Homo sapiens: one gene and its partner. The protein of the gene in region 1 purifies or fractionates together with the protein of each later gene. This does not show direct contact. Each region holds a gene or a part of one and is shown on either strand. Other genes may lie near its edges. The genes, in order: PSCA and ITGA6.

What was found.
Region 2: the proteins of PSCA (region 1) and ITGA6 purify together in Homo sapiens (co-immunoprecipitation; 2 studies listed by BioGRID and IntAct, with this or other methods). This does not show direct contact.

The regions. Positions count from the first base shown.
Region 1 is NC_000008.11:142,674,013-142,685,815, reverse strand, and holds PSCA (prostate stem cell antigen preproprotein), read right to left. Parts: upstream 5,322-11,803; 5' UTR 5,278-5,321; coding exon 5,253-5,277; intron 4,490-5,252; coding exon 4,382-4,489; intron 3,896-4,381; coding exon 3,684-3,895; 3' UTR 3,091-3,683; downstream 1-3,090. UniProt on the Homo sapiens protein: May be involved in the regulation of cell proliferation. Has a cell-proliferation inhibition activity in vitro. May act as a modulator of nicotinic acetylcholine receptors (nAChRs) activity.
Region 2 is NC_000002.12:172,420,248-172,432,108, reverse strand, and holds the start of ITGA6 (integrin alpha-6 isoform b preproprotein), read right to left. Parts: upstream 4,524-11,861; 5' UTR 4,321-4,523; coding exon 4,139-4,320; intron 1-4,138. UniProt on the Homo sapiens protein: Integrin alpha-6/beta-1 (ITGA6:ITGB1) is a receptor for laminin on platelets. Integrin alpha-6/beta-1 (ITGA6:ITGB1) is present in oocytes and is involved in sperm-egg fusion.

The DNA of each region.
Region 1 (11,803 bases):
TTCAAAACTTTACTTCTTCATTCTATGCACTGTCTCATAAAACAGGAGACACTTTAGATACATTAAAACTCTCCCTTGATTCCTTTGCAGATACAATAATGGATGATAGATTAGCATGAGATTAATTATTGCTTGAACAAAGGAAAATGTGCGCTATAATCAATAAAACCTGTCGCATTTATGTAAACACCTCAGGTCAAATAGAAGAAAATGCGCGTAAAATGTATGAGCAAGCTGCCCGGTTGCATAAATATAGCCAAGGCTCTGATCTCCACTGTATCTGGTCAACCATTGGAAGCAGCCTCCTGAGCTGCCCGGTTGCATAAATATAGCCAAGGCTCTGATCTCCACTGTATCTGGTCAACCATTGGAAGCAGCCTCCTGAGCTGCCCGGTTGCATAAATATAGCCAAGGCTCTGATCTCCACTGTATCTGCTCAACCATTGGAAGCAGCCTCCTGAGCTGCCCGGTTGCATAAATATAGCCAAGGCTCTGATCTCCACTGTATCTGGTCAACCATTGGAAGCAGCCTCCTGAGCTGCCCGGTTGCATAAATATAGCCAAGGCTCTGATCTCCACTGTATCTGCTCAACCATTGGAAGCAGCCTCCTGAGCTGCCCGGTTGCATAAATATAGCCAAGGCTCTGATCTCCACTGTATCTGGTCAACCATTGGAAGCAGCCTCCTGAGCCTCACTTGCTTCTGCCCTTCCTAGGACCTTTTGTTAGCTATCTTGTTATTACTAATTGTCAGTCCTTGCTTGTTTATCTTCTTGGTAAACTTTGTGTCTTCTAGATTACAATAGGAAACGTCCCAACGGCTATGAAATGCTGGCAGGTATTATGCTAGGGTTTAGGGATTTGAGTTCTGCACTTTTTTCTTTTTTGTTTTTCTATCATTTCTAAAGATGAGGCGAAGTGGGAAGACAGGGAGGTGCAGGTTCTAGTCCAGATGGAGCCGTGGGGCCCTGAGTGAATAGGCAACCTCTGGAGCCTGAGTGCACCAGGGCTGCGACCTGCACTGTTGGTGCAGGTGGCCCTCCCTGGCTGGTCCTTGCCCTTGGAGAGGTCAGCCGTCTGTCCTTTGAGGAGGCAGCAGGACAGGGAGGACCTCTGTCCCCCATGTGCCACGTGGCCAGAGCAGGTTCCTGCCCCATCCTCATGGTGTGAGGGAGGGGCAGGGCGGGGCATCCTCACAGGCCCTTAGCTCAGAGGCCCCGTGACCTGAGGGACAGCTCAGGAGGTCAAAGGGGGCCACAGGTTTCAGGCTGGCCCTGGCATCGAGAGTCCAGAGAGGCCTCCCGCATCCTTGCCCTTCTTCTCCTCACCTGGTCCAAGGTATTCCAATGCGAGGAATTCTGGGGAACAGGGTGTGAGGGTCCTGTCTTGCTCTGTTCTGGACACCCCCAGCCCGATGTGGATGGGCCCTAGCCCTGGAGCACGCTGCCTTGTGTCTCTGAACCTAAGCCCCAGGGAGAAGGACCCCCTTCCACCAGGGGGTAGGGGCTGCTGTGTGGGCACTGGAGTGGGCTGAGTCCTGTTCAGTGAGGACAGCCGCTCTTATCACTGAGGCACCTGCCTCTGCACTGCAGGCCTCCAGACCACCTCCCTGGCCATCTCAGCATTCTGGATCCTTTTTCCTTGCTTTCCTTTTTTTCTCCCAGTTTTTATCACCAGGGTGACCAGGAGCAACTGAAACAGCAGTGGAACATACCATACCAAGGGTTAGATAACTGTGTGCTAAGTGGATGGAGCCAGGCAGGGCACCAGCCTCCCTCACTCAGCGTCCTTGATGCTCCCCAGAGCAGGTCAGCAAGCCCGGGCCGGCAGCTTCAGGAGACACAGTGTGGCCAGAAGCACCTGCCTGAGCCTCAGGCCCCAGTTCCTGCACCTGAGCCCTGAGGGGTGGAGAGTTCTGTGCGGGCTCCCAGGTCTGCAGGGCCCTCCCAGAAAACAATGGCCTAGCCCTCAACTCTGGACTCAGGCCCTGGGCCAAGGCAGGTCTGAGTGTGCCTTGGGCCTGGGAGGGTGGGTAGGTGTTGGGCAGAGCTCACCATGGAAGCCCAGAGCTCACCATGGAAGCCGGGCAGGCTGGGCTGGGTGTAGGCGAGGCGGGGAGGGTGTGACCAGTGCCCAGGGTCACTCAGATGCTGGCCTGGGGAGCTGCACCCTGCTGACAATGCCACCCTGGGCCCCCAGTGTTCAGGAGGGAGGTCTCCCCGTGAAGTCACATGTCAGACGGGAGGCCTGGCTCTTTCCAGCACAGCTCTGCCCACTGTCTGCTCCATGACCCACCCTCAGAGCTCCAGGCCAGGGTTCCAATCCTGGCTCGGTATGGGATGTGGGCAACAGACCCGTTCCCTTTCCTGAGCCTCTGTCTCCTCTTCTCTGAAACCGCCCCCCGAGCCCCACCCCTAACACCCTTGGAGGCCTCACCCTGAGCAGGTCCCCACCCAGGTCACAGGCTGCACCCCTAGCCCTAGGGCGGGAAGCAGGCTGTGTGCAAAAGGCTTCCCCTGAGCGCAGAAGGCAAGTGTGGATGGTGTCCTCCCACTCAGGGGCCTGGGGATGCTCACGGGGCACAGATTCTCCCAGAAAGAAGCCTCTGGAGGTGTAATGGGCACCCCAGAGAGGGAAGGCGCTGGGGTTCAGGGTTGGGGGAGGCCACCTGTCACCGGGGACCCTGCTGTAGTGTTTGAATGCTGTATGGTGGGTGTGCAGCTCTAAAACAAATTTTGAAAAATGGGGGTGCTCAAATCAGGCCAAGGGGATGGGTAGGAGCTTGAATGGTAGCAGTCCCTCCCCCCGGAACGCTCTCCTTCCTGTGAACTTTCTGGGTCCATCCTCCCAGCAAGGAGGGGTCATAGATGAGTCGCAAGGCTCAGAGAGGTCTGGCCACATGCTCCAGGCAGCACAGCAAGTGCAAGTCCTGGGAACTGCCCTCCCACCCTCTGCAGGGACGTCCTCCTTTCAGGGGCCAAGCTTTGCTCCTGTTAGGGCGGAGGCTGCAGCCCATGTGACCAGGGCCCTGGTCCAGACACAGCCCTGGATCCGGTGCCCGCCTGGGGTGTGCAAGGACAGAGGGTCTCTCTGGCTTATCCAACAGGTGTTTATTAAGGGCCTACGCTGTGCTGAGGCTGCCATTCAGGGAGCCCCACGAATGTGAGGCCTGGCCCCTTCCTCCAGGCCTCCAGGCCCCATCTCTGGAGACTCCCAGGAACTCACGTCGACTCCTGTCCTCCAGTTCTACTCAGTCCACTTCATCTCAGCCTTTACCGGGCCCTCCTGAGTGCCTGTCCCCTGCTGGGTGCGGGGGACACCACGGACCAGACCTGGCTCAAGTCATAGATGGGGTGGGCAGGGAAGGCTTCCTGGGGGAAGAGGTGCCTGAGCACAGGGTTAAGGGTGGAGAATGCTGGGCCATGGAAACAGCAGCAGAGAGGGTTGGAGGGGCCATCTGCAGGCGGATCTGTGTCAATAGAGCCGATCTGCCGGGTGGGAGTCCTGGAGAGGGCCATGGGAGGGTCAGGGTGGGGGACAGGGGCGCAGACATACATGGTCAGACTTGCGTTAGGATGTGCCTCAGGAACCAGGACAGGCTCCCACTGGGCCGGGTGTGTGAGGAGTGGCACAGAGGCCTGGGGCACCACACCCAGTGTGGGCTGCAGCGGGGCCCCCCAGAGCCTAGAGCTGGCCGGGTCCCCAGAGCAGCAGGCCGAGTGCAGGGAGCAGCGCAAGGATGGCAGCAGCCGGCTGCAGGGCATGGGCCCCGCTGGCGTTGCACAAGTCGGTGTCACAGCACGTGATGTTCTTCTTGCCCACGTAGTAGTCCTGTGAGTCATCCACGCAGTTCAAGCTGCAGCCTTTGCTGATGACGGTCAGGAGGCCAACTGCGCCTGGGGAGCAGCGGGATCCGGGGATGGGGCTGCCCTGTGTGCTCACCTGCCTGACCTGCCCCAGGCCTCCTCCTGTCCCACCCTGCCTAATGCTCTAGAGTCCCCCTGGGCTGGCCTCAGGATTGCAAGCAGTGCGAGGGCCTGGTCTCGGCCCTGGTCTCAGCCCTATCCAGATGTCCGAGGCAGATGGACCACCCGCTGAGCGTCAGAAATGGGGTGAGTGAGTAAGTGAGCTCAGGGATGGGGAGGGACAGATGGGTGGAGGAGTGGAAGATGGAGGATGGGGAGGGACAGATGAGTGGAGGAGTGGCAGATGGAGGAGGATGGCTGGAGGGACAGATGCTGGGTGATTGTTGGGGGTGCAGGTGCGGGACGGGTCGGGGACAGGTGGAAGGAAAACAGCACACAGATGCGGACAGATGGCCAGAAAGATTAATAGTTCAGTGGCAGAGACCTAGGCCTGGCGGCTGTCGTCCCCCCACTCACGGATGCGCGCGGTCCAGCACTGCTCCCCCAGCTGGGTGCAGTTCTCCACCTGCAGGCAGTCCTCGTTGCTCACCTGGGCTTTGCAGGAGTAGCACAGCAGGGCAGTGCCTGTGGGGTGGAGTGGGAGGGGCCTCAGAGGCTGCCCCATAGCACTCCCCAGGAATGGGGGCTCCCAGGCAGGTGGGCCTCCATGGCGGTGGCCTGAGGAAGTCCTCGGCGCCCTCTTGTCACCCTCAATGTCTCCTCCCCATCTTCACGGCCCCCTGCTCAGTGCCTCCGAAATGTTGCCCTGTTTAGTCCCTCGGTGGCTGCTTTTGTGACCGTGTGTTTCAGAAGAGGAAGCTGCGGCTGTGGGGGTGACTGAACCCGGGACCCTGGGTCGGGAGGGTCCCACCTCAAGCAGAGCAGCTCCCTGGGACCCTTGGAAGCTGCAGTGCTGGGACTGGGCCGGATGTAGACCCCCGGGTCCTCGCAGGACACCCCCAGCACCTCCCCCTTGTGCCCCAAAAACCACTTCTTAGCCTGAGGCTTCCTGTCCCATGTCTCCCAGCTCCTCATCAGCATCTCTGCCCATCCATCCGTCAGTCTGTCTACCTGCCCCCTAGGAGCCAGGCCCTGCCCCACGGTGGTGAAGGAGAGTGACTCCGTGCTGCCCCTGCAAGCCCCGGTCACAGGGGACGGCAGGGAACAGGTCGCTGCCTGGTCGTGCCAAGAGCTTCCCTGGAGGAGCGGAGGCTAGGGCAAGAGCCTCACCCCCTTCCTCTCCCTTCCTCCTTCCTTCCCCTCCTCTCCGTGTGCCCTGCAGGTATCCCTCTGGCCTCCCCGGCTCACCCCTGCTCCCTTCCCTGCTGGGGGCCAGCCAAGGCCTCACCTGGCTGCAGGGCCAAGCCTGCCATCAACAGGGCAAGCAGCACAGCCTTCGTGGTCACTGGTGGGCTGTGGTGGAGAGGGCCTCAGGTGACTTTATATGGCCTCAAATGGGGAGAGGCTGGACTGCCCACAGTCAACACCAGCGGGTTTCCTGGAGCCAGTGAGGGCCCCGGGGCTGGGCAGGTCCGAGTCTCCTCCCTGAGCGACCTGCACCTCCCTCTCCCTTTGTCCTTCTTTCCACCTCTGGAGGACAGAGCCTACCCAGGGCCATATCTCAGCCACCCCGGGCTGAGGGCTGAAACGTCCTCAAGACCCAGATTATGCCTCTCCCACCTCCCCCACCTCACAGTGCAAGGCCAGACAAGGGAGACCCTTTCTCCAGACTCCTCCAGGCCTCGGCCTTCCAGCCAAGGATGAGGGCACCTCCCTGGGCCCTGTGCTCCTATAGAAGCTGTGCCGCCCTCTGGGGCCCACGGCCCGCAGGGTGATGAGCCTTGGTCACAGCGTCACTGACAGATCATTAGCAGGTGCTGCAAAGGACAGGGGCAGGGGCTGTTCCGGTATAAACCAAAAGTAACATTCTAAGGCCCCCCAGCCATCTGAGTGGAACCCTCCTCTTGGCAAGGGCTTTCCGAAGTTAACCTGAAAAACTGGTTCAGGCCATGACAGCAAAGGGTTGGATAGCCTCATTATCCCTCCTCCCTTCAGAACTCTGGAACAGCCAGCGTTAACATCAACACAGGCCTTCAGTCTGATGAGAAACATTTACCATCTATTGTCTCGGAAGCCTGCTACCTGGAGGCTTCATCTGATGATAAAGCCTTGGTCTCCACAACCCCGTATAACCCAGACATTCCTTTCTATTGATAACTCTTGCAAGCGATTGCCAACCAGAAGATGTTTAAATCCACCTATAACCTGGAAGCCCCCAGTTCCAGCTGCCCACCTTTCTGGACTAAACCAATGTATATCTTCAATATATTTGATTGATGTCTCATGTCTCCCTAAAATGGGTACCATCAAGCTGTGCACTGACCACCTTGGGCACATGTTCTCAGGGTCTCCTGGGGGCTGTGTCACAGGCCATGGTCCCTCATATTTGGCTCAGAATAAATGTCTTCAAATATTTTACAGAGTTTGGCTCTTGTTGACACAGGGGACAGCCTCCCTGGGGAGGAGACCCTGTTGGACGGGCCTTCATTTATGGGGCATTCAGTGTGGGCTGAGCCCTGGGCTAGGTGCTTTACCCTCAGGACCTTGAGTGACCCCCTCAGCTTGGAACTTTAGCTGCAAACGAGTCGGGGAAGTGCAGCTTTTAGCAGCCTCTGCAGTAGCAGGAGGCAGCGGCTAGGCCCAGGGCTGTATGGCCTCTGTTTGCCCCAGATCCCCTCTCCGTCCTGCTCCATGTCCTGGGAGGCTGGTCCAGCTCCCACAGGCAGGAGATGAGAGAGTGGAAGAGGCAAGTTCAGGCCAGCTCTCCTGCCAGTCAGCTGGGAGGTGGTGGCAGTGGCTATGGCCCTCTAGAGCAGGCCCAGCCCGCTGGGCGGTGGTGGCAGTGGCTATGGCCCTCTAGAGCAGGCCCAAGCTCTCATGCCAGTCAGCTGGGCGGTGGGTGGTGGCAGCGGCTATGGCCCTCTAGAGCAGGCCCAGGCTCTCATGCCAGCTGGCTAAGTGTTGGTGGCAGTAGCTATGGTCCTCTAGTACAGGCCTAGGCTCTCCTGCCAGCCGGCTGAGTGTTGGTGGCAGTAGCTATGGTCCTCTAGAGCAGGCCCAGGCTCTCCTGCCAGCCAGCTGGGTGGTGGTAGCAGTGGCTAGGACCCTCTAGAGCAGGCCCAAGCTCTGCTGCCAGTGGCTGGGTGGTGGTGGCAGTGGCTATGGCCCTCTAGAGCAGGCCCAGGCTCTCCTGCCAGTGGCTGGGTGGTGGTGGCAGTGGCTATGGCCCTCTAGAGAAGGCCCAGGTCCCGTCAGCCAGGCTTCTCCTGTCCCCCGGGTTCTGGCCAGCCTCTGGTCACTGTGCTCTCCCCCTCATCCCTGCAAGCCCGAGGGGCTGGTGGCTTCCTGCTGCTGGCTGGCTTTGAGGGGGACTTGTGGCCGCTGCTGTCTCCTTCAACCTGACCCCTGCCTTTGTACATGGACCCTGAGTTAGATAACTCTGCCTGGCAACCCTCTTGGGTATGCTGTTGTTCCTGCCGGAAGCTGGTAGGTCCACTGTGGTCCGTGGCCCTGCCTGCTGCCGAGTGTGTGTCTGGAGGGAGACCGGCCCCTTCTCCCCTGACGCTCTCTCGTCCCCGCTGATGGTTGTCCGGCCTTCATTGTTACCTCCTCTCCTCGATTTTGCCCCTGAAAAGGCTCTGGCACATTTTAGGGGGTGGTGAGGATGTTGCAGTCAGGAAAAGTCTCGGGGAATCGGACCCTCTCCCAGCAGGTCTGCACCGTCCAGGAAGGCCTGCACCGTCCAGGAAGGCTGGTAGATGTTTCTGGGGTGTTCAGGGGACATCAGCTTCCCACTGTCTCACCTTGAGTCTGGGATCAAGGTGACACTACTGATGGGGGCAGGGACGATGCAAGACCCGACCTCCCTGGGACTCAGTGGCACCAGGAATCTGCCTTTGGGCTTCCCCCGGGGCTCCAGGTCAGCCCCTGTCCTTCTGAGGTCTCTCCTGCCTGCCTCCCTGGAACCCACTGGGTTGGGCTCTTTTCCATGGAAATTGTCTCTTCTCTGGCAAGTGAGGAGCCTGAGCCCAAGAGGGACAGGAACTTACTGGAGGCCATGCAGGGTGACTGCAGCCTCCCCCAGACTCCTTGCTTGCCCACTCTGCCCACCCAGAACTTTCCCTCTGGACACGCCCTCCAGCCCATGTCCTGTAAGCTCAGGACAAGGGGCCTCATACAGTCATGAACTGCTTCCGTGTGTGGCTGACAGCCCCTGTCCCATCCTCCCTCCGCCCCCCGCCCCAGCTCGCCCGGACTCTGGCCACTCCCGCACAAGACGTTTTCTTATCTGTCTCTGTGTTCAAGGTGCCAGCCTGGAACTTTCCGTCCTCAAATATTTATAGGTGTGTAAGTGTTTGTTGATCTGATTTGATACACAGTGATTGCTGTAAGGCAGTGGTTCTCACGTGGGTGACTCTGCACCGCCAGGGAATGTTTGGTGATGTCTGGAGGCATCTCTGCTTATTCCAGCTCAGGGGTGCTGCTGGCCTCTAGTGGGTGCAGGCCAAGGAGGGGGCAACACACAGGATCCCCACCACAGAATCCGCAGCCCCAGCATCCGCCGCACTGAGGGTGTGGCTGGTCTGAGGATGGCCCCGTGGTCATGGCTCCTATACGGAAGACCATGGCTGTGACATTCCTAGAGCCCCACCCCTGACCACAGGTTGGGTTCTGACCTCACCCCAAAACTGAGCCCTCACTGTGGTCAGTCTGAACTCTAATCCTGGTTACCTAACGAGCCCTGGTTACGGCCCCACCCTGAGCCCTGGCCCTGGCCACTGGCTGAGCCCTGATCCTGGTCACAGAATGAACCCTGACTGTGGTCACCCTCTGATTTTTGACCCTGGTCACAGGCGAATCCCTGTCCCCTGTCATTCACACTTTGGCCATACACTGAATGCAGCCCCTGAGCCTAAACTGAGCCTGGATCTTCTGGCAGTTCTCCTTTCTGGGAAGTTCTGCCACAAGGGGCATGGCTTCCTGCAGATCCTCATCCGGTGGACAGGGGCTGAGAGGCTGATGTGAGTGATAATAAAACTCCAGTCTCCCGGTCAGCTGGCTCTGTGTGAATTAAACTCTTTCTCTATTGTGATTCCCCTGTCTTGATAAATCGGCTGTATCTTGCCAGGGGTCAAAATGAACCCCCTGGGTGATCACACACTAGTGTATTTTCTTCCTTCTCTTCCTCTCTTTCTGATCCCTCCCCAGTGCCAGAATGGACTTGGTCTTTGAGAAGAGATCCAAGGTTCCCTGAGTAATGGTAGGAGCACCTGGGGGAGCCCCATGCATCTTGGGGATCAGGCCCCAGTTCCGACCCCAGTTCCATGCCAATCTCCACTCCCCACCAGCAGCACCCAAGTCCTGGGAGACCAAGTGATCCCGTCCCTGAGGTGGTAAGCAGTCACACCAGGGATGGAACCAGCCTTCCTGTCCCAGGAGACCCTGCCTTGGGAACCCCCATCCAGCGGCCCTGGGTTCTAGTCCCACCATGTGCCTGGTATGCCCCATGACTAAGCGTCCTCCACTGTGAAACATCTGACTCTAGCATGCTCAAATTCCTGACCCACAGAATCATGTACAATAACAACAGTTAGTGTGGCTTCAGTGTGACTCACCCTTGGCCTCCTTCCTCTTCTCTGCCAGTTGCCTCCAGGGACTCCAGATTTTCCTGTTTGCTCTTGGCCTTCTGCCCACCCACCCCACTGCCATGGGCCCAAAGCAGCCGGGTTCCCTGGAGATCCTGTCTTCCACCTAGTGCAGGGCATGAGGCCGGGGCCAGGACAGCCGGACCAGGCCCTGGGGCTTCTGGGAGCTGACTCACCTTGCAGGGAGTCCCACCACCACCTTCTGGGGCCCCACACGGTCCCATGCTGGAACACACATCCCTGTGTGTAATTTTTTTTATTTCATGCAGCATTAATTAAAAAAATAAAGATAGCATGTCACTTGCAAAGCCACGCTGGTGTCAGTTTTTAGCATCTTTGCTTTGGAAAAACGCCCTTGCAGATCAGGAGGAAAACCCACTGATGCACATGGGTTGGCTGGGGGCACTCAGTGCCAAGCCCCCATTTGGGTTCTGGAAATTAAGGCCATGACTTGCAAGCTGTGTGTGTGTGATATGTGACTGTGAGGGTTTGTATGTGCCAACTATGTGGGCATGGGAGTGTGCCACATAGTGTGTGTGAGAGTGTGAGAGAGGATGCTTGTCTGTGCATGTGGATCAAATGTGCAAATGTGTGGCATGTGTGTAAATGCAAGTGAGTGTGGGTGTGTGCACCGGTTGTGTGTTGTGTAAGCAAAAGCATGTGTGTAAATGTGGGTGTGTTGGGGCCACCAAGTCCTGAGGGCTGTGCAGCTTGGAGCCCCTCAGAGGCGTTCTTCCCCAAGCCCACCCAGCTGGGGCCCACAGGCCCTCCCCATCTCTAACTCCCCCAGGGCCCTGTGTTCCCAGAGGAGGTGCCTTTTCCTGGCTCTCACAAAGGCGTCATCAGGGCCCTGCCCCAAACCAGCTCCCCTCCTGCCTGGGCACTAAGGTGGAGATGGGCACTGCCCCAGCCCCTGCCCCACCAGCCAGGCCCCTTGGCCTCCAATGACCCTCAGAACCACCCCCACCACTCTGCACCCTCTGCTCCTGCCACTCCCCCTTCCTGGAGTGAACTCAGACTGGGGAGGAGACCCAAGGCACACCCTTCCCTTCCAGCTGGGCACAGCCTCACCAGCACCCCCAGCCACCCCTGCTATGAGAGGCCTGTCATCCAGAGACCTCCAGAAGGAGGGCTGGCTGGGACTGCCCCAACCTGAGGCCTCCGGCACCTGAGCAAAGGACACTGCCGGATACAAGCCCACCTCCAGGCAGAGGGAATAGCAGGCACGGGGGATGACCCATGGGCTTCGGAGAGGACAGTGAGGGGTTAGCTCCGGCGTGGCCTTGTGGCCCAGCGAGGACCTGAGCTGTATTCAGAGTGCACAGGCTTATTTGGGCAGGGGGAGTGACTGGCCCTGTCAAATGCCACTCTGACTGTGGGTGGAGATGGGGAAGCCAGTGCAGAAGCAGGCTGCTGTAGTGGCCCAGGCATGGTCTGGAGGCTCCGCTCAGTAGGGAAGCAGGCTGGTGCAGTGGCCCAGGCATAGTCTGGGGGCTCTGCTCTGCGAACTTGGGGCATGGCTGGGGGAAGGGAGTCCTCAGAGCCAGCCCCCAGGAGACACTGGAAACTGCCTTTGTAAAAGTTTTAACAGTGAGAAAATGGTGATGGTGAAGGAGATCTGATCTAACCCACAGCCAGTTAATCTCCAAACTGCCCTTAGTCATTTCTGGGCATAACAGCCCTTTTCCAAAACTCAGCCATCTTTGTAAAGCTAACGAAAGGCCACCACTGCATGAGGAAGATGAGGGGATCTGCGCTCTGCTGAGGTTAGACTGAAATGATTCCCAGCCGTTATTCATTAGGAAGATGGGGGATCTGAGCTCTGCTGAGGTTAGACTGAAACGATTCCCAGCCGTTATTCATTAGGAAGATGAGGGGAGTCTGAGCTCTGCTGAGGTTAGACTGAAACGATTCCCAGCCGTTATTCATTAGGAAGATGGGGGATCTGAGCTCTGCTGAGGTTAGACTGAAACGATTCCCAGCCGTTATTCATTAGGAAGATGGGGGATCTGAGCTCTGCAGAGGTTAGACTGAAACGATTCCCAGCCGTTATTCATTAGGAAGATGGGGGATCTGAGCTCTGCTGAGGTTAGACTGAAACGATTCCCAGCCGTTATTCATTAGGAAGATGAGGGGATCTGAGCTCTGCTGAGGTTAGACTGAAACGATTCCCAGCCGTTATTCATTAGGAAGA
Region 2 (11,861 bases), on another chromosome or scaffold:
TGAAAATACCAAATAATTCACTGGCCTCACTGTCCACAGTAATATGTTGAGCCGAGGTCTTCAGGAAACCATGCGCCATAATTCTGGTACTATTTGGTTATGAAAGCTTAAATTAAATCTCAATATATTGTTATGCTAAGAGAGTCTATATAACTGAGAACACAGAATAACCACTTCTTTATAATAAAGGAATCCTTTTATATAAGCATTTATCCTGACTTCCCCAACAAATTATTTATACCATATAAATACTTTGACCCTTTTTTTCCCCAACCCTGTCATTACTTGGTCTCACACCAGCCTGTGTTAAAATTAAACTTGCCTATTTCTGCTTTCTTGCAGAGTCCTAAGACTTCCTGTAAGTCTCGCTGCCCGTTTTGGCTTTTTCTCTACTCTTAGCATTCAAGGTGACCCAGCAATCCCTGGAAGATGGCCCTGGGCCACATGGCACTCCGAGTGAATAAATGCAAGGAAGCAAGTGCTTAGGTACACATCCTGAATACAGCTCTGATTCTTGGCTAGCTACAGCCACACTTCACTGGGCTTTTTCAGAAGGGAATGGGGTGGAGGCAGGCAAAGAAGGACGGACCCAGAACTTGTTCCAAGGCCAGCTGGAATAGAGTCAATAGTAAGAGTCCAGGCACCAATATTTAAATAGATAGCCCTGACCTATGCATATGGGAAGCAGTTTGATAAATCAACACAATATAGTACACTTCCAAAATTCAGATGCTTGCCGATTTCTCTAGGTCTGAAGAACATTTCTGGCTTTTCCATTTAAAAATGGCATGAGCATGGGTCAGAGATTCAAATCCACATTCTGTTAAGATTCTGCTCAAGCTGAACTTTCAGCTTCAGTTTCTTCATCTGTAAAAAGAGGCAGTTGGACTAGATGATCTCTAGTTCAGAAAATATGATTTTAAGAGATGGAACATGACAAGTCTGAGAAAAGTCAAGAACAAACCTAGTAAGGGTCAGAACAGAACAGACCGCGGGCCTGGAGCATTTCTGGAAGACAGTGGTGGTCAGAGAGAGAGACCCCATAAAGAAGAAAATGAGGGTTGGCAGAAATCCAAAATGACTTCATGAGACTATCTCTTATAGATCTCCTTCTTCTAGGTTCTTCCCTGTGATCATATATAGATCCATCTCTTCCCAGAAGAGCTAAGAGTGATGATTCATAGGCTGGATATACCCACAGTCATCATCACATACCTTCCACCTCTGGGAATGACTCAATCTTAACTACCTAAGAGAAATTAAAGAGTCCAAGGTGCTCAGACCCTGACCTCAGTCACTCGGCGGACCAACTTGGCTGACCATTGAGTAATCTTTTGGAGTCCGAAACTTCTTTAATATACAGCCTGAAAACCTGGATGAAGTTTATGGTATCTACTTCAATTTTATAGTCTCCAAAGCTTTAGGAACACCCGACATGTTTTGGGGCTCTCTGACACAATATTATTCTGCAAAAGTCATAACTGGAGTTTAAAATGTGACTGAATAGTTAAAGGCACTATAGAAAATTTGAACTACAAACATTTATGATAGGTCTTCTATGATCGTGCTTTTATCTGACCGTCCCATGCATCTGATATTTTACTTCTCCTTCCTCAAAGTCCTCTGTTCATTAAACTCACTTTTGTTATAAGTCTAATTAAGACCTATTAAAGTTAAGTTGCTTTGAACATGGGTTTCATAAATATGACTGAGTTTAAAATATCATTACCCAAAAACAACCACCTTTGGCTTTACTCTCAGGCAATCTTAGAATCACAGAATGTTTAAGACACCTTGTAAGGTACCTGACACACAGTAGGTACACAATTACTGCTTTTTAAATGATCATTAACAGCTACCATTTAGTCAGCAAGTACCCATGCCAGACAGGCATTAAGCACTTTGCATATTATCTCTTAATCCTCATAATAACCCCAGTAAGCAGTAATATCTCCATTTTACAGATAAAGAAATTAAAGCTCAAAGTAAATTAACAGCTGCTAATAAAAGGCCGAGAAGGAATCTCAGCTTAGGTCTCTCTCCCACCAGGTCCCTGAAAGACCCCCACTGAGTTTTTCCATAGAGTTTAGGAAGCTGGTCCAGAAGTTTTCTCAGTCTTACTGGCTCTGCCATTTACACCCACATTCTTTACTGTCAAAGGTTGACAACTGACCTGTGCTATGGCCTGTGTGTGCTGGTTCTCCTGGGAAGACCAATGCTATTCCTGAAGCTGGAATAAAGCTTTACAAAAGCATGGAGGTGGGCAGCACGTGACATAAACCACAGCCTCTTTAAAGTGTGGTCACTGCCTTTGGACTCTAGGAAACATACAGTCTCCTTATACGGGGCCTCTCCCCTCTGTCAGCTGCTAAGAAGAGCTTTCCTAGAAGGCATCAGACCCCATTGCAGGCTTATCCTTACCTCGGGAGGAGTTGCCTCAGCTCTAATACCAGAGAAGCCCAGCAGCAGTAACAAGTTTTAGCAAGCATGCTGCTAACCTTCACGACACAGATTCCTGGCAAAGTCACGTTTCGCAAATCTCCACTGCCAGGATATTTCTTGTCCCAGTACTTTCCCTTCACACTTTTTGCTTGAACAAGTATTTCAAGGAAGCCACCGGTTTCAGTGGGGCTCTGGTGCAGAGAGAGAATGCCCAGGAGAATGAATTCCCTCTGCTGGCCCACAATCATTTCTGCACTAACAAGCTCAAATTCTACACACCAAGTATTCCGAGACAATAAACGTCATCTATTAACTGAGTTAACAGGAACCTTTCATTTCAGATTTACAGCTTAACAACAATTATTTCTGAGAGAAAGCAGAGTATAAGCAGCTGGCCAGGCATATAGCCTCAGACCACCCTCCTAGAGCCTCCCCACCCCCAGCTAATTTCTGTGCTTCACCTAGCAGGTGTTATCAGAAAAAAAAAAAAACTGACTAAAATTCAGGGGCTGCAACATTCACGAATTCCAAAGTTGTTAACCGCTGAAATCAAGAGGTTTCCTCCAGTTCTAAAATCCCATTCGCCTCTCCTAAACACAAAATCTCTTCACTGTGGCTGCACTTTGCTTTCTCCGGTCTGTTGGTCCTGGAAGGTCCTTAGTTCAACTCAAGGCCTGGGTGGGGAGGGGAGACCTTTTGTTGCTACAGCCTATTTTTCAGTAGCACAGATGAAGAATGCAACCCCATAGCGATTAAGGCGACTAAGCGCCAAAATACCCTCTCCGGCTTAAATAGCCGATCATGTGGGAACCAAACACTGTTTAAGAAATAAAAGGAGAGGCCAGTAGTGCCGGTCTCCTCTTTCTCCTGGGAGGTTTACCGCTACGGTGGGGGGTTGTCCCTTACAAACCTTGTTTGCAAAGTCCAGGCTCAGATCGGACATTTTGCTTTAACCCCTTGGCTGTGCCCGCCCAACGCAGGAGCCGAGCGGGTCTCGGGTGCGGCCGAGTACTTTGGGGGCTGGGCACATCACTCAGACTTGTTTTCTCAGCTGATCTAGTCCAGCGAACAGGTGTTTGGTTAATTCCCGCCCCCACCCCCATCTTTTTTTTTTTTTTTTTCAAAGGCATGTAAAAGTATCTCCTAAGGAGCGCCCCCGCCTTGCTGAGAAAGTCATGCAGGACACATGGAAAGTGGCTTTCCAACTTGTGCGGGGCGCGCCAGTCTGCGGGGGAGACGGGGTGCACCGTGAGTTTGGGAAAGGCCTAGACCATCCTGGAACTACGCTCCCTGCAAACCCACAGCAGCGCTGCGGTGACCCTGAACGCCACCCCAGCCCCAAACACACACGTGAAGCTCAGCAAAGCGTGCCACCTGCCGGGGTCCCAGCAAACACGCCCGGAGGGAAGAACCGGCGGAAAGCACTTTGTTTAAAACAGAAAAAAAAGTAAACTCTCCCGGGGCCCAGCCTAGCCCTCGGGTTCTCCTCCTTCCCGAGCTGAATGGAGGGAGGCGCCGCGCGGGGCGGGTCAGGGCGGGGAGCCGAGCGCGCTGGGCGCTGGGTGCGCCTCGGCCGGCCCGGGCGCGACCCACGGGCCAACTACTCCCCGGGGCCGGCGGGAACAGGGCGCGCCCTCGCCTCAACTCGCGCGCAGGCCGGCGCCCCAGTGGGGGTGGGAAGGGTCTGGGAACTCACAGCCGCTTGTCCTCGGGCTGCAGTTGCCAGTGCATGGCCAGCGAGAAGCCGAAGAGGCTCCCGGGGTCTCCATATTTCCGGATCACGTTGTCCTCCCGAGTGTCCAAGTTGAAGGCTGCGCCGAGCCGGGACAGGAGCCCCGCCGACAGGTAGAGCAAGCACAGCTGCCCGGCGGCGGCCATGGGCGGACGCACGGGGAGGGGAGCGGGGACCTGCAGCGGCCGCCCTGCGCTCCGGGCTGGGTCCGAGGCTGCCGCGCTGCTGCTACCGCAGCCACCTTCGCCTCCTCTCGCCGCTGCGCCCGGCCCCACCCCCGGGACGGGTCGCGCTCTCCGTCCGGCCGCTCCCCCTCGCGGGCAGCTCGCGACCGCTGAATGAGCCCGTTGTTCTCTGGAGACTCGCAGGCGTTTTATCAAGTGACGAGGACGCCGGCCCCGCCCCTCCCCACCCTCTCGCCCCTCCTTGCGCGCCCGCGGCCCGGCGCACCGCCCGCACCTTACCCGCCGGCTCTGGCGTCTCCAGCTGCCCGGTACCTGCCCGGAAGCCACGACGTGGGAGCCCCGGAGGCGAGCTCGCGGCGAAGCAGCCCCACTGCGCCGCCCTCTGTGGACAGAATTGTGGTTGCCGAGTAGCACAGAGCGAGGGAGACTTTACTACCCGTTATAAAGAGAAGTGCAGGTGATGCACCGGGCCTCATGGCCTGAGCAGCCTGTTCTTGCAGATGTGGGCCCACGTGCAGATGCATACGTCATTCATTCATTTCTACAGGTGTTTATGGAGCGCTTAAGGCGTGCCCAACACTTGGGGACTACAGCTGTGTAGACTGTTCTGGGTCCTCAAACACCTAACAACCCTCAAAAATGATCACAGCGCACACCTTGATAGTGCTGTATAATGTACACAACCCAGCCATTACCTCAATTCATCCTAACAGTCCTATGAGGTAGGTGTTTCTTTTTGCAGATCAGAAAACCGAAGTTCCGCCTTGTCCCCAGATCACCTAGGATTTTGCCCAGGTGACCAGGAGAGCTTGTGGAAGAAGTCACGCAAGTCAAGGATGGGTTGTTTAAAGTGGCGCCAGGAGCTCAGGCGACGATGCCGTTCTTTCCTAGCCCCGGACTTTCAGAACTAGTTGTGGGGAGAACTGCTGGGCCAAGAGACAGCTCCGAGTTCTGTGTAGGTGGCATGAAGGCTCCTGCCTCCAGGACATGAGGCGGGGCTCCAGTGAGGTGTTGGCCCTAGGGGCAACCTTATCCTGCAGGGGTTCTTAACCCGAGGAGAGGTAATTAATTCAAGAGTACTGTGAACTTGGATGAGAAAAAATTTACGTCTTAATTTTCACCAACCTCTGACATTTAGCACGTTTTGCCATTATGAACGTAGACAACAAACTACAGTAGCAGTAGGATAAGTATTTATGACTTAGTAATCACTAGAAACCATAGGTTTTTACATCACATCACAGTTGTTGCAAGTATCTCAAATAACAGTAGTTATTAGACAATCAGCCAGATATTATATGTCAATAATGAAGCATATATATTGCTCTAGCACAAATTTTTAAAAACATTTTGTTAGCTACATTTCAATATTATTGGCTTTTTTTGTAACCTCTTGTGGTTTCTTTTATGTATTTAAAACCCTTATTCTGAGAAGAACCCCATGGTTTTCAGCAGCCTGCCAAAGGGGTCCCATGGCATGAAAAGGTTGGGACGTGCTGGCCTGAAGCCTTCTGGAATGCCTTGGGGAGCCCTCTTTGGAATCTGACATCCCTGCATTGGAAATACAAGCAGGGTGCAGCCCCAGGAAAGAGCAGGAGCTGTGTGTGCATAGGGGTAGGGGTGGCCTCTTCTTCACCTCAAGGAGTATTCAAGAGAACAGCATGTGCCACTCAGAAAAGCTGCGTGAACATCATCAAGGGTCCCCACAGGTGGTAGCAGCTGTCAGAGTAAGTCCGTCAGTATATTAGGGGTGTGTACCACTTCCTTTCCAATCAGTAACTCCAGTCAATTATAGTCCAAAGTGGGGTGCAGTGGTTTAAATTCAGTAGATGATTTTGGAGAGCACACAGTTTTAACAAATATATCTTGATAAGGTTGAGAAACTATTGGAGACAATCTAGTAAACTAAGAAGTACTTGCAACGTGATTTTTCATGCAAATAAGTTGCAAGTTAGCCTTTTCCCTTCGTGTAAAATATGTACTATTCCAGAGAGATGGGGTCCAGACTATTATAGGCATAGTATAATGAACCTCACTGCAGAGTGTACTCAGCCAGGAGCTGGTGATTTGGCTGTAATGGTTACTGAAATATTCTGAATTGGTTGATAAAAGCTGCTGCCCTTAGTTCCTCACAGGCAACCATCCCTGCCCTGCCCATTTTCCTAGGACTAAGCAACTTCCTCACAACCTGGCAAATGAAAGTTTAAGCCCTTAAGCCCTGATGCAGCAAGGGCTCCCTCTGCTTGGATATCCCCATGTCACACCAGCTGTTAACTATTCTGAATATCACCCCTTGCTTCTAAGAGTAATTCTGTGGACCATTGATTCCTGTCTTCCCAAGATGTGTTTAGTGGATGATGTATGAATGGCCAGAGTTATTTACTTTATCCCAAACACAGATTGTGCTCAAATTGAAATTCTAAATAATATTAAATTTAAATATCACAACTACATGTATAGCACTACTGAAGCAAATTATGCTTGTGTGGGAAGAGGTTCAGATAAAGAAAAACAAGGCTGGGAGTCTTGTTCTGGAATATGTCAAGTGCCCATCGCAAATGGAAAACTTATTAGCTCAGTGCTCCTACCTGCCACCTGTCTCCTACCTACTTGAAGTTGAGTCAAACTCTCACTCTCAACATAGATGCCGAAGATACTTGAAGTTGAGTCAAACCCTCACTCTTGACATAATTTATTTGAAGATTGTCAGCTCCTTCTGACTATAACCATCAAGTTTTGGCCAGGCACAGTGGCTCACGCCTATAATCCTGGCACTTTGGGAGGCGAGGTGGGAGGATCACCTGAGGTCAAGGGTTCGAGACCAGCCTGGCCAAAATGGTGAGACTCCCCCCCACCCAACCCCACCACCCCGTCTCTACTAAAAATACAAAAATTAGCTGGGTCTAATGATGGGCACCTCTAATCCCAGCTACTCGGGAGGCCAAGGCTCAAGACTCACTTGAAATGGGGAGACAGAGGTTGCAGTAAGCCAAGATTGCACCACTGCACTCCAGACTAGGTGACAGAGCAAGACTCTGACTCAAAAAAAAAAAAGAATCAAGTTTTGTGACTCAGTTGTTATTTCCATTGTAAAACAGAGTTGGGTGTTTTACAAAAGTGTCTTACAAAAAGGAGGTTTAGAGGTCATTCTGGATCCACTGAGGACACATCAATCTCTGGGGCCAAAGGAATAAAAGAATTCAGAGCCCTAAAAATTAAAGACCTGGGGAGGGAGTACACAGTTTTAATGGGGAAAACAAAATCTGGGACAGGAAGATACTTGTCTGGAACCAAAGGGAGAGAGATAGCTTGGTGATAAAGGTGTGCTGAGTATATAGGGCATGGGGCATGTGTGTGTGTGTGCTAGCACACATGCCTATGAAAACAAGACATGCACAGTGCAAGAAGGGCCCTACAAATCCAGTTAACTGGCAGAACCGTGTCTAAAAAAAAAAAAAAAGGGCCGATTAGAAAACGAAATAACACATCACAGAAGAAACTTCTATAAACTGAACATTTTTAATTAAAAGGCAGTGAAAGCTATGCATAGAGGCATTTGCTCAGGTGAGAGCTTTTGAATTCTTATGTTTTACCAGTACACTTTTCAAAATAAAATTATTTATTTGTACTATATCCCACCCTCTGTAGAAGAGCTTTCAAGATAATTTTAGAATATTGGTCATTTATGGAGAAGTCTGAAGAATCCATGTCATACCTAATATATTTTCCATTCCCTGAGACCTACTTTAATCATTTTGTTATCATGTTCACTGTTATATTGACTTCATCATCACTAACAGCAGAGAATATATTTGCTTTTTTCATGCAACATAAAAACTAGTTATTAGGCCGGACGTGGTGGCTCATGCCTGTAATCCCAGCACTTCTGGAGGCTGAGGCAGGCAGATCACCTGAAGTCAGGAGTTCGAGACCAGCCTGGCCAACTTGGCGAAACCCCATCTCTACTAAAAATACAAAAATGAGCCGGGCGTGGTGGAGGTGCCGTAATTTCAGCTACTCAGGATGCTGAGGCAGGAGAATCGCTTGAACCCGGGAGGCAGAGGTTGCATTGAGCCGAGATTGCACCACTGCACTCCAGCCTGGGCAACAGAGCAAGACTCCGTCTCAAGAAACTAGTTAATGAAAACATCTCTTTATTCTCTTTCTGTGGTTACATTATCCCAACAGTTTTACATATTTCCTGGAGCCCTTTAATGTGAGGCCATCCATGAGAGTGGGTAGCACATGGTCTCTGGAACCCAAGTTCCTTATTACGGATCCTGCCTCTGCTCCACGCTAGCCACAAGGCCATTTAATCTCTCCATGTCTCCGTTTTCCCAGCTGTAAACCGGAAATAACAACATGTCATCTACCCCTCAGTAGTTGCTTTCTCTTAAGAATTAGTAGAGTTGATGTTATCTAAAGCACTTAGAATGTTGCATCAAAACCAGAGCTCCCACCTGTGTACAGTCTTTCAAGATACGGCTTTTATGAGCTATGCATTGACCACAATATAGTTTCGTGAACTAAACTTAATAAACTGTTCTGACTAGGGATTCTACTATTCAATGGCAGATTTTTTGTTCCAGAGAAAGAAACAGAGTTTTCCCATACTGTTTTTTTATTTGTCTTTTTATATTAGTGTTCAGAGTTTTCTCTTCGACACTGAAACTTAATGCTTTTGTGTTTAAAAAAAAAAGTGACATTTTATTCGCTCTAAGTCACAGACCATTTAATAGGGGCAAACCTGCCTTTGGTTGGGATCAGGAGACTCCATACTGCCAGCTGTTCCTTATTTTAACACCTAGATCTATTTTGAAGTAAATTGCATTTGAATGTTTCTAATTCACTTACAATGAGCTCATTAAAATGTAGAGTGTTTCACGTTGCCATTTTAGGTGGGCAAACTTTTTTCAAGTTTGTTTTGAGGGAATTTTTCTAAGCCAGGAAGCCATATTTTGCCAGCCAGAAATAAACTCCAACCTTAAATGAATCAAGTTAAATCTAAAACTGAGTCATAAGGCTGGGGTGAAATCCCCACCTGACAAATTTGGTTTTCCATCCCCACCTTCATTAGAAACAAACATGAAGCTATGTACATCTCATGCCACACGCAATGCACTCTTGAAAGACCAAACATGGGGTAGACATTTTAAAATTAAGTTCTTTAAAGAAAAAAATTCATTGCTTTCTATAAAAATATCTCCTGTGTTGGTGGGGTGGGGGGAAAGGCTGATTTTGAGTTAGGACTTAAGCCAGTGATCTGTGGAGTGTATCAGGTGAGATTAAGGCAAACACTCATGGAAGGCAGCTTAGCCTCACCTTCTTCCCGGCTGAGGGCCTGGAGCAAGTTACCCAACTTCTTTAGGACTCAATTTGTTTTTTTTAGAGTGAATCTCGCTCTGTCGCCCAGGCTGGAGTGCAGTGGTGCAATCTCAGCTCACTGCAACCTCTGCCTCCCGGGTTCAAGCGATTCTCCTGCCTCAGCCTCCTAAGCAGCTGGGATTACAGGCACATGCCACCATGCCCAGCTAATTTTTGTATTTTTAGTAGAGACGGGGTTTCACCATGTTTGTCAGGCTGGTCTCGAAATCCCGACCTCGTGATCTGCCCGCCTTGGCCTCCCAAAGTGCTGGGATTACAGGCATGAGCCACCTCCCCTGGCCTAGGACTCAATTTTCTAATCTGTAAAATAGCCAGAATTCTTACCTCATCAGGTTGTTATAAGGATTAAGTGAGATTATATAAGTGAAGCATATAGTACAATATCTACTATTAAATGCACGCTGAAATAAAATAGTAGCTGTGAAAATGTAGGTGAAGAAAGTATACTAGAAAATAAAACAAGAGAGGACTTCAAATAATGGAGATTAAACATAGGGAGAGGCAATATGCAAATGAGGTCACTTGTGCCCCATATTTGCGTCATTTAAATGGTCAGCATAAACCATTCCTTATCGTTATAGCTTGGCAAATATAGTCGTCCCTCAGTATACACAAGGGATTGGTTCCAGGACCCCTGCACATAACCAAAATCCATGCATACTCAAATCCTGAAGTCAGCCCTGAAAATCCACATATAGACAAAGTCGGTACTCCACATTCACCAGGTTCACATCCCGCAAATACTGTATTTTCAATCTGAGAGTTTTTTTTTTAAAAAAATCCATGTGTAAGTGGACCCCTGTGGTTCAAACCCATGTTGTTAAAGAGCCATCTATAATCTCTGTCATATGATAGTTTCCTGATGCCAAGGTCTGCATAGAAACAAGTTTGTGCTTCACTCTGGGTCTGAACCATTTCTGTCTTTTGCCAGGATTTGGAGAAGTAAGAGTGGGTCCTAAACTCTGCGTCCGCCGGAACTTCAGAAGAGACAAACAGTTCAGATGACAAGCTAGCTAGGAGGCCTGGGGAGAATAAAGAGACAAAAGCACAGGGACATTACTGAACACGTCCTTATCACAACCTGCTCAGCCAAAGAGAAAGTTAGCACTATGAATTATCCAAAATCACAGCCAACTTATCATTATTTTGTTTGGAGCTTCATCTTCTTGAATACATCTTGCTGCTAATATTAAAGCAGCTTATACTACTTAAAATAAGCTGACAGGATAGTTATGAGGACATGTCACTTGATAGGGAAATCAAATCTTGAACTTTAAAATTTCTTCAACATTTTTGAATCTGGAAAGCAAGTCATTGGAAGGTGAAAAGTAGTCACTATATTTAACAGGTCCCTTCTTATGGCACATTAACAAAACATTTGAAGCAATGCAATAAATTCTGCCCTGTGAACACACTACTCTATAGAACAAATAACAAAGAAAGGAGGAAAAGAACGTAGAAATCTGAACCACCTAATAGCCAAGAATGTCCCTATTGCAATGGCTTTGTTGTCCCAGATCACATGCCCAAAAGTGAAGGGCCAAACGTTTCTGCATTATACAACATATTTCTGAACTTTCCCTGGTGAAAAAGGAGAAAAATGGGTTCACAGATACTTATATCACATTTCATGTTCAAAAATCTTTTCAAACCCTAAAGTCAGTGCATCTCCACAAAGCAAAAGCCAGTGTCCTAATTTTATGTCTGGAGACACTAAAGCAGGGACTTTTCCTAAAAAGAATGTCAGTCTCTCTGACCAAATTAAAATTTGGGATTTCCCGACTTCTGATTTCATAACCCAGACCACTCCATTGAACCCTTCTTCAGCCTTGGCAGAGAAATTCTCCATGGAGACCAAATCTCCTGCTTCCCAAACAAGGAACTGTAGCAGTTTGTAAAGTGTGATCTTCAGCCAATGTGTTTTCTGGTGGGGAAAAAAACGTGTTACACCAGTAACACGTTGTCAGTTAGGTTGGGAAGTTCAGGCATAAACACATGCTACTTGTTCATCCTGCTTACAGAAGGATGCAAAGCACAGAAAGCCTACTTAGGGGGATTTGTGCCCCCACTTAATCCAATAAGCCACAGTGAATTTTTTCAGCCTTAGGCCCTACTAG